Regions from separate parts of the Homo sapiens genome. Here region 2 is linked to region 1. The links come from fine-mapping of genetic effects on plasma protein levels. A gene starts in region 1. The other region holds a variant in brackets. All regions are shown on one strand. Distances are between the middles of the regions.

The links. A credible set is the group of variants that fine-mapping cannot tell apart. PIP is the chance, under the fine-mapping model, that this variant and not a neighbour inherited with it causes the effect. The UK Biobank Pharma Proteomics Project read protein levels with antibody pairs (Olink). The fine-mapping took linkage between variants from a reference panel, not from the people measured, so its PIPs are less certain.
Region 2: its variant is the best candidate, but not a certain one, in a credible set for the plasma level of the DDI2 protein (UK Biobank, PIP 0.74).

Annotation. Positions count from the first base shown.
Region 1 is chr1:15,612,020-15,621,078 of GRCh38, forward strand. It overlaps DDI2 (DDI proteasomal shuttling factor 2), which reads left to right and starts at 5,439. Exons shown (of 10, transcript NM_032341.5): 1 at 5,439-5,789. The coding sequence starts at 5,652. It also overlaps the pseudogene CD24P1. RefSeq lists a silencer at 5,193-5,762.
Region 2 is chr1:15,662,468-15,671,526 of GRCh38, forward strand. DDI2 (DDI proteasomal shuttling factor 2) reads left to right here. Exons shown (of 10, transcript NM_032341.5): 10 at 1-6,577. Among named protein-coding and RNA genes, the nearest start is that of RSC1A1, 7.3 kb to the left of the region's middle. RefSeq lists a silencer at 5,754-5,954. The variant G/A (reference allele first, on the strand shown) is at 5,289.

The DNA.
Region 1 (9,059 bases):
ACCAAAAGAACAGTGATAGCCTAACAATGTAAAACTTAATATATTGGCATTAAATTAGTACTGCTGAAATAATACATTGAGGATTTATAGAATGATGGAAGCTTTTTTTTTTTTTTTTGAGACGGAGTCTCACTCTGTCTTCCAGGCTGGAGTGCAGTGGTGCGGTCTCAGCTCACTGCAGCCTCCACCCTCCGAGTTCACACGATTCTCCTGCCTCAGCCTCCCGAGTAGCTGTAATTACAGACACTTGCCACCGTGCCCAGCTAATTTTTTGTATTTTTAGTAGAGATGGGGTTTCACCATCTTGGCCAGGCTGGTCTTGAACTCCTGACCTTGTGATCCACCCGCCTTGGTCTCCCAAAGTGCTGGGATTACAGGTGTGAGCCACTGCACCCAGCCGATGGAAGCTTTTTTAAACTTTAAGACAGGATCTTGCTCTGTCACCCAGGCTGGAGTGCCATGATAATGGCTTACTGCAGCCTTGACCTCCAGGGCTGAAGTGATCATCCTACCTCAGTCTCTTGGGTAGCTGTGACCACAAGTGTGTGACACCATGCCCACCTCTTTTTTTAAATTTGTGGGCCAGACACGGTGGCTCACACCTGTAATCCCAGCACTTTGGGAGGACGAGAGAGCTGGATCGCCTGAGGTCAGGAGTTTGAGACCAGCCTGGCCAACATGGTGAAACCCCATCTCTACTAAAAATACAAATATTAGCTGGGCATGGTGGCATGCTCCTGTAGTCCCAGCTACTCAGGAGGCTAAAGAAGGAGAATGGCTTGAACCCGGGAGGTGGAGATTGCAGTGAGCTGGGATCGTGCCATGGCACTCCAGCCTGGGGGACAAGAGTGAAACGCTGCCTCAAAAAAAAAAAAGGAGATTATGGCCAGGTGCAGTGGCTCATGCCCGTAATCCCAGCACTTTGGGGGGCCCAGTGGGTAGATCACCTGAGGTCAGGAGTTTGCGACCCGCCTGGCCTACATGGTGAAACCCTGTCTCCACTAAAAATACAAAAATTAGCCAGGTATGGTGGTGGGTGCCTGTAATCCCAGCTACTCAGGAGGCTGAGGCACAAGAATCACTTGAACCTGCGAGGCAGAGGTTGCAGTGAGCTGAGATCGCACCACTGCACTCCAGCCTGGATGGCAGAGCGAGACTGTGTCTCAGAAAGGAAAAACAAAAAATAAAAATTAGCGGGGCATGGTGGTGCAGGCCTGTAATCCCAGCAACTTGGGAGGCTCAGGCAGGAGAATCACGAGCCAGGGAAGTGGAGGTTGCAGTGAGCTGAGCTCGCACCACTGCACTCCAGCCTGGGCAACAGAACAAGACTCCATCTCAATAAATAAATAAATTAATTAAATTAAAATAAATTTTTTTTTGTAGAGATGGGGTCTCACCCTGTTGCCCAGGGTGATTTCAAACTCCTGGGCTCAATCGATCCTCCTGCTGTGGCCTCCCAAAGTGCTAGGATTACAGGTATGAGCCACCCCCACCCCTGCCAATGGAAATCTTTTATTTTACTGGTTTTACTGCCGTATAGACTTAATGAACCAAATGAAAACTGAATCTCCACTCCATATTACATCTTTATTTCTAAACAAGATAAAATCTATTATTTATTATTATTTTTTTTTTATTACCCAAGTTTTGTCTCAGGATCTACTATTCTTATTTTCAAGGTAGTTTTAACTGTCCACATTTCTTAAGCCACATTCAAGAAATAATGTCTTCAATTTTGGATGTTGCCTCTCTTCATCTTGTACATGACATTTAAGCAGATTTAATATTGGCATCCATCATCTAGTCAAACCCTTCACGTGTTCTTCAAAGCAATTAAATTTGGGGTTCTCAACCTTTTCTTTCTTTCTTTCCTTTTTTTTTTTTTTTGAGATGGAGTCTCACTCTGTCGCCCAGGCTGGAGTGCAATGGCGCGATCTCGGCTCACTGCACCCTCTGCCTCCCATGTTCAAGCCATTCTCCTGCCTCAGCCTCCTGAGTAGCTGGGATTACAGGCACACACCACCACGTCTGGCTAATTTTTATATTTTTAGTAGAGACGGGGTTTCACCATGTTGGTCAGGCTGGTCTTGAACTCCTGACCTTGTGATCCACCTGCCACCTGCCTCGGCCTCCCAAAGTGCTGGGATTACAGATGTGAGCTACCGCGCCTGGCCTTTTTTTTTTTTTTTTTTTTTTTTGAGACAGAGTTTTGCTCTTGTTGCCCAGGCTGGAGTGCAATGGCGCAATCTCGGCTCACTGCAACCTCTGCCTCCCAGGTTCAACCAATTCTCCTGCCTCAGCCTCCCAAGTAGCTGGGATTACAGGCATCCACCACCATATCTGGGTAATTTTTCTGTACTTTTAGTAGAGACGGGGTTTCACCATGTTGGCCAGGCTGGTCTCAAACTCCTGACCTCAGGTGATCCACCTGCCTCGACCTCTCAATGTGTTGGGATTACAGGCATGAGCCACCACACCTGGCCAGGTTCTCAACCTTTTCTGTATCAGTAAAAGAAGGTGTGAAATTAATAGATTTGATGAAGACCCGCTTTTTTTCTTGCCACATTGGACTCCTAGATGCCATTTGGAATGGGTTTAGAAGACACGGAAGTATAGATGTTTCTTAACAGTAGAAATATAGAAGAGAAAGCAAGACCATGAGGAGACTGGCAGTTGACTGCAGGGCACAGCCAACTGCCTTGGTGGTGGCATTAGCTGGGTTTGGGGCAGACAAGGTACCCTGGGAGGAGTTACTTGAAAACGTTACAATAGTTTGATTTGAATAAATCTGCATAAGTAGGAGCAGTGCCAGAAGCAGCAGCCCCAGCCTGAGCCTGTCCACCATTGCTTTGTCCCCTCCATTGGTGTCTGGCATATATTGCTGGATGCTGGGTGAGAACTGCTGGCTCCAGGTGGACACAGGCGAGACCTAGCCTTAAAAATCACACAAAGTGGCTGGGTGCGATGGCTCACATCTGTAATCCCAGTACTTCGTGAGGCCAAGGTGGGAGGATCACTTGAGGCCAGGATTTGGAGATTAGCCTGGTCAACATAGCAAGGACTCATCCCTATTTTTTTTAACTAAAAATAATGTAAAATCATAATAAAAAGGAAATCAAGCCTGGGCAACATAGCAAGATCTCATCTCTACTAAAAAGAAATTAGCTGCGTGTGGTGGTGCACACCTGTAGTTCCAGCTGCTGGGGAGGTTGAGCTGGAGGGATCACTTGAGCCCTGGAGGTTGAGGCTGCAGTGAGCCATGATCGTGCCACTGCACTCCAGCCTGGGTGACAGAGCCAGACCCTGTCTTGATAAAAAAAAAAAAAAAAAAGGAAATCACATAATGTCACTTATGCCAGAGTTAGTCTGCCGAGCCATGATTCAAAGGGAGGGACATTCACCCCACTTCTTAATGGGAGGGTTATCCAATCATGTTGTAGGAAGAGCATAGACGATGGGAGGCACTGTCATGGTCATCTTTGGAGAACAAAATCTGCCAGACCTGGGAACCTGAGCACCACTAGACCAAATATAACAATTAATCAATGATTCAAGCCTCAACTGATTCCTTGATACCACCACTGGGCAATCCTAGAACATTTCTCAGCTAAACTTGCTTCAATTTGCAATGGTTATTTCAAACATTCACTGTAGAAGGCACTGTGTACATCTTTCCTAATACCCATTCCCAGCCCCCCTTTTCCCTATTTATGTCCTTTAGGCAAAGCTAAATACTTGCGTTCCTAGCCTCTCTTGCATCTATGTGACACAATTCTGTCCAGTGAGATGTAAGCAAAAATGTGCACAGGGACTTCTGGGCAAGCTTTTTCCTTGAATAGGAAAATGATGCGTGCAGTGGAGGCAGCCAGCCATATATTGCAACCCTCAGGAAAAGGTCAAGACAATTACAAAAGTATTGGCCCTGATTTCAGTGAGCCACTCAACCAGTGCTGTTGCTACCTCCAGGCCTTCTCTCCTGTGAGAAAACAAACCCTTGTTTGTTTAAGCCACTGATAGTCAAGCTTTCTGTTGCTCCTAGGGGATATAAGCATTCTCACTCCCCTGTGCCTCTACTTTCTCTTTTTTTTTTTTTTTTTTGAGACAGAGTCTCGCTCTGTCTCCCAGGCTAGAGTGCAGTGACCTGATCTCGGCTCACTACAACCTCCGCCTCCCGCGTTCAAGTGACCCTCCTGCCTCAGCCTCCCGAGTAGCTGGGACTATAGGTGTCCGCCACCATGCCCGGCTAATTTTTGTATTTTTAGTAGAGACGGGGTTTCACCATATTGGCCAAGCTGGTCTCGAACTCCTGACCTTGTGATCCGCCCGCCTTGGCCTCCCAAAGTGCTGGGATTACAGGCGTGAGCCACCGCGCCCAGCTCCTCTAATTTCTCTTTGTAAAAGCCTTCAGCTGCTAATTCTCCCTTTCCTGCCACCAACAGCCTACTTACTACCTACTTACCTGCACCCACAGCCATCTTATTTGCTCCTTCTCTCCTGTTAAAATGGAAAAGGGCTCCCTACCATGGAGGGGGAGTGGGAGTAAATGGAAAGATGCTAATCTGGCATCCATTACAAGTTCATCTTTCAGTTTTGGTTTTCTTACTCATCCGCACCTTAGTTCTGGGCCTCTACCACTCATCAGCTGTGTGCCTTAAAAACAGGCCATTAAAGTAGCAAATATTTATTGAGTAGATTCTAAGCTGTGCCCAAAAAGGCACTGCGCTAGGTGGTAGGAGTTGCTAGGGCTAGGAAACAGACACAGTCCAAGTAGAGAGAAAATTATTTACAAGACAGGGGAATGGAGCCTTGGAGGAACTGACCTATGTGGCTGGGAGGGCAGAGAATGTGGGAAGAGCTCGGAAGAAGGGGCTGGGGAGGTAGGCGTGGGCCACAGCCAACTGGCTTCTGTAGACTAGGGAGGGTAATGATTTTGGTTTCAATCCTAAATCACTAAGACAGGAAGTGAATTACTCTGTCGGAGCCTCAATTTCTACCTCGAAAAATATGTTTTATTACTAACTCCTGTACTAGATTGAGAGTTACGGAGAAGGATTTATCCTTTTATTCATTTCTGCATCGCCAGCGCCCGACACATGGTAGGCGCTTAATCAATGCCTGTTCGGTGAATAAATAAGACCGGGGACTCCTCCACAGACTTCTGTCATTAAGTCAACCAGTCAGCAGAGATTTCCTTCTCCGCGTTCCTTTCCTTCCCTCCCCTTTTCTTGCCCTTCCTCCCTCTCCTCTTCCACGCCCCCTTCCCACTCCTCCCCCTCCTATCCTCTCCTGGCTTCCTCCTCCTCTTCCCGGCCCCGCCCCCCGCTGCGTTGCGAAGGCGGGGAAGGCGAGGCGGGCTTTACGGCAGCCGCGTTGCGGCGGGGCGGGGCGCCGGGCGGCCGGCGCGCTTGGCGGCAGCCGTGGGAGGCAGGCCGGCAGGCAGACGGACTCGCAGGCGTGTGGCGGCGGCCGTGCTTGCTAGTGAGGGCGGGAGGGAGTGACTCACTGAGCGTGTGTGAGGGAGGGAGCGAGCGAGCGAACGAGCAGCCGGCGCCGTCCTCCCGCAGCACCAGCCAGGCCACGCCGCCGCCTCTTCCCCTGCGCCCCGCGCCCAGGCCGGGCCGAGCCGAGCCGAGCCGGGTCGGGCCCGGGCCATGCTGCTCACCGTGTACTGTGTGCGGAGGGACCTCTCCGAGGTGACCTTTTCCCTCCAGGTCGACGCCGACTTCGAGCTGCACAACTTCCGCGCGCTGTGCGAGCTCGAGTCTGGCATCCCCGCAGCCGAGAGCCAGGTACGCCGGGCAGCGAGCCGGGCCTGCCCCGGAGCTAAGCCCTCCCCGCCTCGGGGCCTCACTCCCTCCCTTTGCTACTGGTGAAGAATTGGGGGCTGGGGGGAGCAAGGATAGCCATTCTCAGGTCACCCCCGCATCCGGAAAGGAGCTGGGGAGCTGGCATCAGTAGCTGCCCTCACACACTCCGAGCATGGGGTGGGGTACGAGGAGAGGGAGCGGAGAACCTGACCGCAGACGCACCCACTGCAGCGTGAGGGGCGCGTGGACTGTTGAGCAGCGCTAACCCTCCCCACCTTTGGCTCTTTGGCCCTTCCCTGTTTCTAATCCCGAGTGTAGGATATCGTTGTGGACCTCAGAAGCAGCCCTGGGTTTGCTAGGATTCATACATCCTGCAAACCAGAAATACCAGTTTGGATCACTGTGGTAGATAGATGTTCCTCTGCTTTTTTTTTTTTTTTTTTCTGGAGAGGGTTTCTGCTTAAATATACGCAGTTTACCTTTAAATGCACAGATTTGCACTTCCGGTGAAAGAAAAAGTTTAAGACTTGCACTACCTCATTTTGGGGTCTTTGGAAATGCTCTTTACCCACCACATGCGTTTCTGGTTAAATTCTTTTGAAAAACAGTACCTATTGGTTCAACTCAAGCTGTTTGTTTGTTTCGGTTCTACCCTGGTAGTAAGCCAGAAGGCCCTTTTTCTTTCAGGTCACAGTTCAGAGTTTGGGTCAGTTCAAAGCTCAATGCTTTAAAAGGATATTTGCTTGGAAACGGCCTAGTATCAGTGCTGTTTGGTGGTTTCATTTCCCTACTCAGCTTGCTGGAAAGAAGTTCAGCCTCTCATATTTTAACTAAGCAAAGTAATTCTCAAAATGCTTTGGGGCTGCCCCTAGTCTTTATCAAACAGAATCGGTGACACTAACGCTGTAAACTTTACACTAAAACACTTAGATCATGACTTAATAAATTTAGCCTGGAGGAAATAGTCTAAACATTAAGAAAATTATAGAGGTCTCCCAAGTCTCCATCAAGTAAATCTTGATTTTCTACTGCAGTTATGAAATAGTTTACAAAACGATTGCCCAACTGCAGCTTGTTCTGCTGTCTTATGGTAAACACGTGTCAATACTTTGTTCAGAAGTATGATTCCTTTACACAATGTGAACTTTAGAACCTTGGCATAAAGCTGTTCAGAAAGAATTTAAAAAGTTAATCCACAAAAGCTCAGGAACCAGTTCTGTCAGTGAATGCCTCATGTGGAGAACTAGGAAAGGACTGTTTAAATAGAGAAAATAAACTCTTCAATTTTTTTTCTTTTTTTGTTTTTGTTTTTGAGACGGAGTCTTGCTCTGTCGCCCATGCTGGAGTGCAGTGGTGCGTTCTCGACTCACTGCAACCCCAGTCTCCCGGGTTCAAGCGATTCTCCTGCCTCAGCCTCCTGAGTAACTGGGACTACGGGCGCGCGCCACCACGCCTGGCTAATTTTTGTAATTTTTTTTTAGTAGAGACGGGGTTTCACCATGTTGACCAGGCTGATTTCAAACTCCTGACCTCTAGTGATCTGCCCGCCTCGGCCTCCCAAAATGCTGCGATTACAGGTGTGAGCCACCGTTCCCGGACAACTCTTCAATTTTTGATAGTGGCTTTTTCTTTTCTTTTCTTTTCTTTTTTTTTTTTCGAGACGGAGTCTCTGTCGCCTAGGCTGGAGTGCAGTGGCGCGATCTCGGCTTACTGCAAGCTCCACCTCCCGGGTTCGTGCCATTCTCCTGCCTCAGCCTCCCGAGTAGCTGGGACTACAGGCGCCCACCACCGCGCCCGACTCATTTTTTGTATTTTTAGTAGAGAAGGGGTTTCACCATGTTAGCCAGGATGGTCTCGATCTCCTGACCTCGTGGTCTGCCCGCCTCGGCCTTCCAAAGTGCTGTGAGCCACCGCACCCGGCCCGATAGTGGCTTTTTCAATTGTTTTTTCCTCTAGCTGTTATATTACCCTGGTTATGATCACCGGCTGGTAGGGAAAATAAGAAATTAAAATGTAAATTGATTTTGTTGTTAGGGCTTGGGAAAAGACAGAGGTTGAGGTTGTTTCCATTCCTGCACTTTTTGTGATGGCTGAAACAAGAAATTTAAGTCAAAGGGATACCTGACACCCCCTTTAATTGACTTAAATTTCTTGTTACAGCCATCATAAAAGACGATTTATTGTGTGGTCAGCCAGACATTGCCCTCTGCCAGTTGGTAAAGTTAGGAATACCTTAGTAATTGAACATAGGCTAACTCCAAATTATTTCTTGTTCATTATGTCAATGTTTCGGCATTTACTTCCTTCCCAAGCCAAATTAGCATATAGAAACTTGGGCTCCAACTGGTGTTAAGCCTGTATTAGATAGCCATAAACAGCTCCTGTTTTTCCAGTCTGTTCTGTTGGCTCCATTGTAACCTGACAACACAGTATCTATTTTAAGGTGTCTGGTGGTCGGTTGTCTTTCACTTGCTTGCTTGCCCATCAGGCAGGAACAGGATCCACCCTAGACACTTGAGTCATTTCCTTTCATCAAATCATAATAGTAAACATCACTATAGTTTTTACCCATAAATATATCATGTTTACTTACTTGAGTGTCCCCCCCCATTACCTCCCAGGGTTCTCTCATATTACTCATCTTCCCTTCCTTTCCTAGACTGTTTAACTCCTCCTCTTGTTTACATTCTCCATTCCCATTCCTTCACCTCTCATTTCTGATTCCATTTCTTCAAGGAAATATATATATTTTTATGTTCTGGCTATTTTTTCCTGCCACTATGTGTCCACACCACTGGTGTCCAAACTTTCATTCATGTATCCCTATCAGTAAAATGTTTCAGATTATGCTTCTGTTATGTATATAATACATTATATACATGAACTGATACGTTGTATACATTATATATGGCCACATGTGCATATAATACACATAACGTGCATTATATGCATATATAATATGTTATCTGTAAAGTAACATTGTACACACACAAAATGGAGCTTAAGGAAGGACGAACTAAAATAAATGGAAATGAAAATTCTAATATTTTCAGTTTCTTCCTCCACCGTTAAAGAATTGTCTTGCATGGCTGCCCTACATTGGTGATCAATGGTTTAGAATTCAGTCTTTCACCTGAGTGTCAATTGCACATAAGCATATAGTTGGAAAAGGTGTTAATTTTTAACAGCTCTAGTCTGATGATAGTAGTTACAATGCAGTGATAACAAATTTAGAACAAGCCATCTCTGCTT
Region 2 (9,059 bases), 50 kb after region 1:
CTACCCAGATTCTTAAAAGAACAGAACAACCATAATTCCATTTGCAGATGTCAAGAACTGTGAGGGAAAAATAATGGCCTAAACACTGGAATTTGCTAGAGTTTGGGTTTGCTAGCATCTCACTGATAACACCTCAACCCTTAATGACTAATGGTGGAATTAAGTTCAGGAATGGATTCATTGCCAGCAGCTTATTTCCTTTCTAGACTCTTCTGCCAGGAAGTTCTTCAAACGCTCAGTGTGAGCTGTGATCTGAGTGAAATACTAAGTGTGATAACCTTGTCACTGGTTAATCTTGGTGCTTGGAACGGTCAGTCTATTTGGAGAGTGTCCTTTGTGGCAGTGGAAATAGTAATTACAGTTTCTGACTTAAGTGGCCTTGGTAGAGTTTTCCATCCTTTTCTTTCCTCAGGAGTTTCTTTTTTAAGCAAAATTCATCTTATTTGTGTTTACCATGTCAAGTTAGAGTGGGGCATAATATATAGATGTATTTATTGTGGCCTTTTTTTATATAAGGACTAGCCCTTGGAAATCATTGTCCTGTGGGCCCCACTGTGCAATAATCCTACTGGATAGGTTTTAGATAATTCTTTCCTGGCAAACTGCTCTTTTGGGTACCTAGCAGGAATCTGAAGTCTTGGTTTTATTGAAAAGAATTTTGAGATTCATAATTTCTGATTCTAGATTATAGTTTGTAACATGTTTGAAACAGAAGCTTCGAAAGAGTGATTTCTCAACTTAGTGTTAAATGATTTTGTCTGAAGTCTGACTCTTTGTAAGCTTGTTTGTTTCATCAAATTTTAAGTCATTGAGCACAATCAAAATGGAGGCTCATATCTCAGGAGTTTTTGAAATTTTAATTTAGGGGCACTTAGAGACATTTTTTTCTACCCCATCCAACTTCTTTCTTTCCTTTTGCTATGATGTTTGTATGTATGTTATAAGACTTTAGTGATGGGATGGCGTGTCACGTAGATTCATCATGATCCTTTATGTAGTTAGGAAATGGTTGACAGAAGGAATTGTAGTTTACTGCTTTTCAGAGGGCGTGAAGAACAACAGGTCAGCCAGGTTGTCTTTAAGATGTTCTTTTAGACAGCTGCACATTGTAGACCCTTTCACCTGCCCTACACCAAAGATGTACGATGCACTAGGAAACTGCTCATAGGATTTCTGTCAGCTGACTTAAAGCTGTGATTGTAATTAAATAGTTGGTGCTATGATTGATGCAAAATCTAGTAGCAATGCAATGGGACCCTGTATTTGCTTTATGGGTGGTGGTTTGGGAATGTATTCTAAGCTTATAAATCTTTGGAACCACGGGGTGGGAAGGGTGGGGGAACTTACTGATGACAATAGACTCCCTCCTAAAGGGCCTTCCATGTAAGCAGAACGAACCTTGGCACACAATTCAGTGTGGATATTTGGGAAACAGTTCCAAGTGGAATATATAATATCAGTCGGGAAAAGATTTCATTAGGATAGCTTTTTGTGTATGTATATGTATATTTATTTTTAGGAATAGATCTATAGTTGTACATGAATTCCTGTTAGGAATACTCTGAATGAGCTTAACCCACTTGCCAAATATCCTTGTCCCTTCCATCATTTTATTTTTGAGATGGGGTCTTGCAGTGTTGCCCAGGCTGGACTCAAACTCTGGGGCTTAATCATCCTTCTGAGTAGCTGGGACTACATAAAGGCCAAAGTATAATTGCTTTTGATTTTTAAAATCTTCTTGCCCATCATTTTTATAAAAATAAAGCTGTTTGTCCAACACGGTGAAACCTCATCTCTACTAAAAATACAAAAAATTAGCTGGGCATGGTGGCACACGCCTGTAATCCCAGCTACTTGGGAGACTGAGGCAGGAGAATTGCTTGAACCTGGGAGATGGGGGTTGCAGTGAGCCTAGATCACGCCACTGCACTCCAGTGTGGGCGGCAGAGTGAGACTCTGTCTCACCCAAAAAAAAAAAAAAAAAGCTATTGACACTGTTAATATTTTGGATGACTTAAATTTAGCAGCTCTAGAATGCAAAGGGTATATTAAGGAGCATTACAATAGTGAACCTTCATCGTCAGCTTTTATTCAATTAAGAGCTCCAGAAATGCAGAAATTATGGGTTAACTTCTAAGAATACCATCAAATCCCTGTGAATTCTGGTTGCCAACAGTAATAACCAGTAATGGGCACCTTTACCGGACAGCTCCTTTACCATAACCAGTAGTGGGCAGTTCTGCGGTCAGCACTTAACTACAAGGGCGGTCTCTGTTTCTTCACCAGAGAGAGAAGATTTTCCTGTGTAATTTGTGCCATTTCCCTGAAGTTGGTTCTTGAGCGGAAAGATGTGCTTGGTAACCAGACAGCAGCTTTACATAGGTTATAGATTTTGCTCATTGATGCTGTTAAGAATTATTTCCACTCATACCTGTTCAGGGCTCCAGACAGCCAATAGCCTTCATCCCACAGTTTGGGCTTCAGCTATTAACACATAAAGATAACCAGTTGCAGCTAGGCTCGGTGGCTCACACCTGTAATCCCAGCACTTTGGGAGGCCAAGGCGGGTGGATCACCTGAGGGCAGGAGTTTGAGACAGGCCTGGCCAACATGGTGAAACTCCATCTCTACTAAAAATACAAAAATTAGCCGGGTGTGGTGGCCCATGCCTGTAATTCCAGCTACTCGGGAGGCTGAGGCAGGAGAATCACTTAAACCTGGGAGGCGGAGGTTGTGGTGAGCAGAGATCACGCCATTGCACTCCAGCCTGGGCAACAAGAGCAAAACTCTGTCTCAAAAAAAAAAAAAAAAAAGGTAACCAGTTGCTTGGCAAAGGAAGCTGGAGAGATGGCGAGTGCATGTGTTAAAACTCTTCTGCCTTGCAGCCCACATCTTCTAGAGCTCCCTGTCTTCATATGTACTAAAGGGAGACACAACCCTATGTGTTTTTTCCCAAAGCATGTCTCTAGCAAGAGGGTACATAGAAATGGAACATGAGGCTTTTTGTCACTGATTTTATGATAACCAGTTAATGTGGAATCTGCTGGTTGTCTTACTACAGCTTTCTATCTCCGGTGAAAGCCATAAAAATTTAGGTTAACTTTTAAGCTCATGTCTATATATATGTGTGTAAGCTAGCATATACATATGGTGATTGACAAGTATAGTTAATTTTATATGGATTTAAAAGCAAGCAATTTTTATATCTACAGACGTACTCTTCACTTATGGTGGCTTTTATCCCGCCACATATATAAATATATATATATATAGCAAACAGCCTTGCAAATCATCGGCCAGAAAAGCTGCAGGGCGTTGCAATGGCCTTTTCCTACCTGTTTGCCACCTGTGGTGAGGGTGAGCAGGATGATTGAACTGCTGCATATTTCAAACCTGTTATCACTGGCAGTGTGTCCCAAGAGAAGCTGACCAGATTATGCATTCTACTGTTCTCTAGCACAAGTACTCACCAAAAAGCCAAATTTCCCCTTTGGAGTTGGTGACTTAGTGTAGTCTGTGGCTGACCTAGAAAGACACAGAGTTATCAAGAGTTTCCCTTCCTAGAAGATGAATGTTACCTTTTGTGTTAGGAGGTAGAGAAAATAAAAATAGCTTTTTTTTCCCTAGAATTGCTAATTACTCTTAACAACAAATTAAATTCAAAGCCTGTCCTTGAGAACTGGAAATGTAAAATCATGGTTCAAGTTTTATACCTTAGTGATTCCTCAGTAGGTGTTACTAGGAGTTCACTGAATGAACTTAGGAGTGAACCTTCGATGTGCTTGATTTTCTTTTGTGCCTTAGTTTCTCTGAATAGCAGAGGCATCAAATTTTGGTGGGGAATGAGAGGAGTATTAGGGGAAAGTTTGAAAATAGCTCTCCTGGAGATGGAGGGCACACAGAGTGGTCCTCAGGCTCACCTTGACTGAGTTGATTCACAGTTATCCTGCATCAGACCATTAGATTTCTTTAGTGCTATGATTATAATAGGGATTTTTGAATCACCAAAAACAGTTTTTAGATGTTTATGTTCTTTGTTTTACTATCAATGTTGTGCTGGTTAAGGGAGAGAAAAGTTCAAGAAGATCTTACATATTTGAAAGGAAATTGGTACTCTTGAAGGCTATGCAACATGAGTCTTTGAACAAGAATTCCTTGCTACTTTGATTCATTCATCAAATACTGAGTGCCTGTGTGCCAGGCACAGGTGAACTCTGGGGATTCAGGGGTAACTAAAACAGATTGGAACCCTGCCCTTGTGAAGCTTTCAGTCTAGAAGGGAGACGTGAAACAAATTTTAGCTTCAAAAGCAACATCTATTTTTGCCTGTTAGCATGCATTTATTTTAAAAGTCATATTAGAGTTACCTGGTTCCACTTCAGAGCAGACTGGGAAAATCAGGCTTACAATGGAATCAGATGCTGTGGGCCTAAAACAGCTCTTTAAAAATCTATTTTTTTAGGCCAGGTGCGTTGGCTCACACCTGTAATCCCAGCACTTTGGGAGGCCAAGGTGGGTGGATATGAGGTCAGGAGGTCGAGACCAGCCTGGCCAATATGATGAAACCTTACCTCTACTAAAAATAAAAAATTAGCCGGGCATGGTGGCACATGCCTGTAGTCCCAGCTACTCGGGAAACTGAGGCAGAAGAATCGCTTGAACCCGGGAGGCGGAGGTTGCAGTGAGCCGGGATCACGTCACTGTACTCCAGCCTGGGCAAGAGTGAGACACCGTCTCAAAAAAAAAAAAAATTTTTTTTTAAATGGAATCAGAGAAACCAACAAAATATGTAACATGTATAAATGCCTGAGGAGATCAGTTATTGAGAAATCCATTTACAATGCTGGAGGAGAGGGGATGGCCAGGAAAGAAGTGCAACAAATAAATGGAAGATGACCCTAAAAATGCACCAGTGACAGTCAGTCAATCCATCAGACCACCTCACATGCAGGGTAGAAACATGGAGTGTGCGGCAGCATCCTCCTCACATCCCTTTGTGAGCACGGCTGCTCCGGAATACTGACCATCTGGGCTAGCACGACTTAGCAGAGGGTTCTGCAGGATGTGCTATTTTAAAGCAGCTGGGTGCAACTTGTGAAAACGGGAATCTAGAGCAGAACATGTAATCAGCGATGGCTGGGATTGGTGGACAGGATTGACAGGAGTATTTGAGGCTCTACCAGGCCTGTCTACAGGACAGCTTCATCAAAGGGACATTTTTTAACCTGTTATTTTAAATGCCACATATATGTTGTAATGCTGAAGCATACAGGTAGAATTTCTGGATC[G/A]TAACTACTAGTGACTTCTGAGGTTTACAGTTAGAAAATGTTCTCAAAGGTTTATCAGTTATGTATTGATGATTGGTAATCTAGACCCTCTGGAGGCTGTAGAATGTGAAAAGATACAGCTGAGCTGACAAGTTTTAGGGCACTATCTTCTGGAATGAAATCGGCCAAGAAAATGGTTCAAGGGCATGGGGGTTAGAGAATGTTTCTTTTACCTAAAAATGTTAAGCCAACTATGGAAGATTGGGGTCGTGGGGGCATGAAATACAAAATTATGATAATTTATACAGAACTAGGTTTCTTTATGTTCTGCAAGAAGGTTTTTATTAGCTAATTTGGGGAGGGGGGCATGCTGCAGTATTTTTTTTCCTGGGAACATGCATTTCTGATGGGAAGTTATTTTGTTTACAAGAGTTGGTTTTACACACAACCCTGAATGAATGTGTCTATGGCCTAAAAATGGTAGACCTGTATTTCCTTCCCGAGGCAGGCTGATTCGTTTCCTGATTCCTTCTGTCTGAGATTACCTGATGCTGACCAGACTTATTTTTCCTTTCCTGAATCTTCACAGCTGAGTTTATGGCACCCATCCAAGACCTTCCCATTTGAATGACTAGATTTCTATTCTATCCCCGATCATCCTTTTGAAATAGTTCTAGTGATAAACTCAGAGAAATTCAATATATTGATTGAATTTTATTTTTTCGCTTTGTATCTACAACAGAAATTGATTTGTTCATTTTTATTTCAAATCTCTTCATGGCAAGTTGGGCTAATGGACTTTGCACTCAAGAAAGGTTTGTTTACCAGTTTTGTAGCCATGTTTGGCAAATCTTAGCAACTAGAAACCCCGTCCTTTCTTTTCCTTCTTTATATGTTCTTGCAGTTACTCTTGTATTGCAAGATTTTCTGACTTTAAGCTTTGAGACTACTGCATCTTAAAAGAAGAACTAGGCTGACTGGCAAAAAGTCTTGCCAGTGGCCCTGTCACTCCCATGATGCTTTGGTTTTGAGAGTTGGGAAAACTCTGAGAACTTAAGGGAACCAAACTCAGGAATCCCAAAATTGGTGGCATTGTGCCATTCGTTTAGGGGCTGAACATAGGACCTGTCTGAAACTGAGTGAGCTAGATGCATTTGGGTTTGAATTTTTGTCACATACTGAAATGTAAGTCAGCCCTAAATAATCAAAACACTTTATTTTATTTTTCTTTTTTTAAATAGGAACTTTCTGAAGAAAAAGTGGTGTGTAAAACATTTGATATTTAAGACAATAAAGTTTTTATCATAAGACTTCTGTTTGATCAATTTCTTTTAAATTGAGGTGGTTACTTCAGTTAGACAAGGTGGTGTCCTTGTCTCTATCTCCCTACTCCTTTAAATAGCTTATACCCAGACATTGTAATTTATGGCGTGTACCTGAACCCCAGAAGAAGTGGGCCTCTCAAAGCCATTAACTTCCAGATTAGTACTGCGGGAGGACAGCTCCCTGCTGATGTAAAAGATGCGCATTTTGGGCCAGGCACGATGGCTCACACCTGTATTCCCAGCACTTTGGGAGGCCGAGATGGGCGGATTACTTCAAGACCAGCCTGGCCACCACGGCGAAACTCCCATCTCTACTAAAAATGAAAAAGCTGGGCGTGGTGGCATGCACCTGTGGTCCCCACTACTCAGGAGGCTGAGGTGAGAGGATTGTTTGAGTCCAGGAAGCGGAGGTTGCATTGAGCTGAGATGCCACTGCACTCCAGCCTGGGCAACAGCAAGACCCTGTCTCAATTATAATAATAGCAATGGAGTATGGTGGCCAAGACTAGATTCTAGAGCTAGGCTGATTGGGTTTGAGCTTTGCCACTTACTGGTTTATATGACTGGGTAAGTTACCTAACCTTTCTGTGCTTGAGTTTCCTCACCTGTTAAATGGGGACCATCAGAGAGATTATGGGGCTTAAATGAGTTAATCATATGAAGTGCTTAGAATACCTGGCACAAAGTAAGTGCTCATGAGATGTGAGCTGGTATTCATTATGTCACTCAAGGGATTTGAGGATGCTACATGGAATTTCCAGAAGTCAAGTGCTTTGTCTAACAGACTGATGTGGGGGAAGGGCTTTGCCCCATGTAGGTTCCAGGCTACCAGGATTCTGTCTTTTTCAACATGTGGGTTCCAAGATTGCCTTGGACGTCAGCATCCAGCTGGCACACCAGGGAAAGGGGTGTTATGTACCAGGCCTGGAAGTGGTGTGCATGACTTTTCTGCCCACATTCACTGGCTGGAACTCAGTCACATGACCATGCCAGAAGCAAGCGGGGCTGTGAAATAGATGTTCAGGCTGATGAGGGGTACAGCTAGTTGGTTGGCTAAGCAGTCCTCCAATGTTGACTTACACAGACAGAGACAACACATACCTTTTCACCAAAGGAGATGGCCCCAAATCCCACCCCAGGCAATCCATTGACCTCAACGTCCAGAGTTCCCTGATGCCACGTCTTTCAGGTCTTGATTGTGGCCCCTTAAGGTCTGGCAAACTCTGAACTTGGAAATGTTATCTGTTTCTACCCGATAGACAGTGATAGAGCTGGGATAGAATAACTGTAGTAGCAGATCTCAATTGGAAAAGGAAATGGGAAATGGAGGTGTCACTGGCCCCAACAATTAGAAAATCATGCTGAACAGGCTGAGTGTGGTGGCTCACGCCTATAATTCCAGCACTTTGGGAGGCCGAGATGGACGTATCATGAGGTCAGGAGATAAGACCATCCTGGCCAACATGGCAAAACCCCGTCTCTACTAAAAATACAAAAACTAGCTGGGCATGGTGGAGCGTGCCTGTAATTCCAGCTACTTGGGAGGCTGAGGCAGAATTGCTTGAACCCGGGAGTCAGAGGTTGCAGTGAGCCGAGATTGTGCCACTGCACTCCAGCCTGGTGACAGAGTGAGACTCCATCTCAAAAACAAAAACAAAAAAAAATCGTGCTGAACAGACATTGTGAAGAAGTTTATTAAAAATTCTGATTGCCTAGTTTGAAGGAAGTCCCTTGTCCATTGTCCATAGCCCCACCTGAATTGAGTCTGCTCTTGGGAGTTGGCGTGGCCTTCTTAGCTAGCTTACTGCTTGGTGCAAGCCTGGGGATCCGAGGGTTGTCTAAAGCCTTGGAAAAGAGTCAGTGGCTTTTAAAACCTGAGTGTGTGGTTAATTTGGGAAAACAATTTACTTGGTAGACTTCTGATTATTCACTTGCAGCCATTTCTGCATGCCAGTAACCACACTAGCAATTCTTGCCTCTACACAGTTTTCAGGTCTGATTAATTTTGCTTCTCACTTCTAGTTCGTTCTCAGTGACACCTGCCTTGACTTCATCTGAAGTATATTTGAATGGGAAAACCCGAATAGATGATTTTTGCTGCAGGCCTGAGTCTTACTGGGCCTTAGTATTCAAAGCCTGTTTCAAACTTAGCTCTTATCTGGGATCTAAAAGGAAATTTTTTTTTTTTTTTTGAGACGGAGTCTTGCTCTGTCACCCAGGCTGGAGTGCAGTGACATGATCTTGGCTCGCTGCAACCTCAGTCTCCCGAGTTCAAGCGATTCTCCTGCCTCAGCCTCCCAAGCAGCTAGGACTACAGGCACGCGCCACCACACCCAACTAATTTTCGTATTTTTAGTAGAGACAAGGTTTCACCATATTGGCCAGGCTGGTCTCGAACTCCTGACCTCATGATCCACCCGCCTCAGCCTCCCAAAGTGCTGGTATTACAGGCATGAGCCACCACACC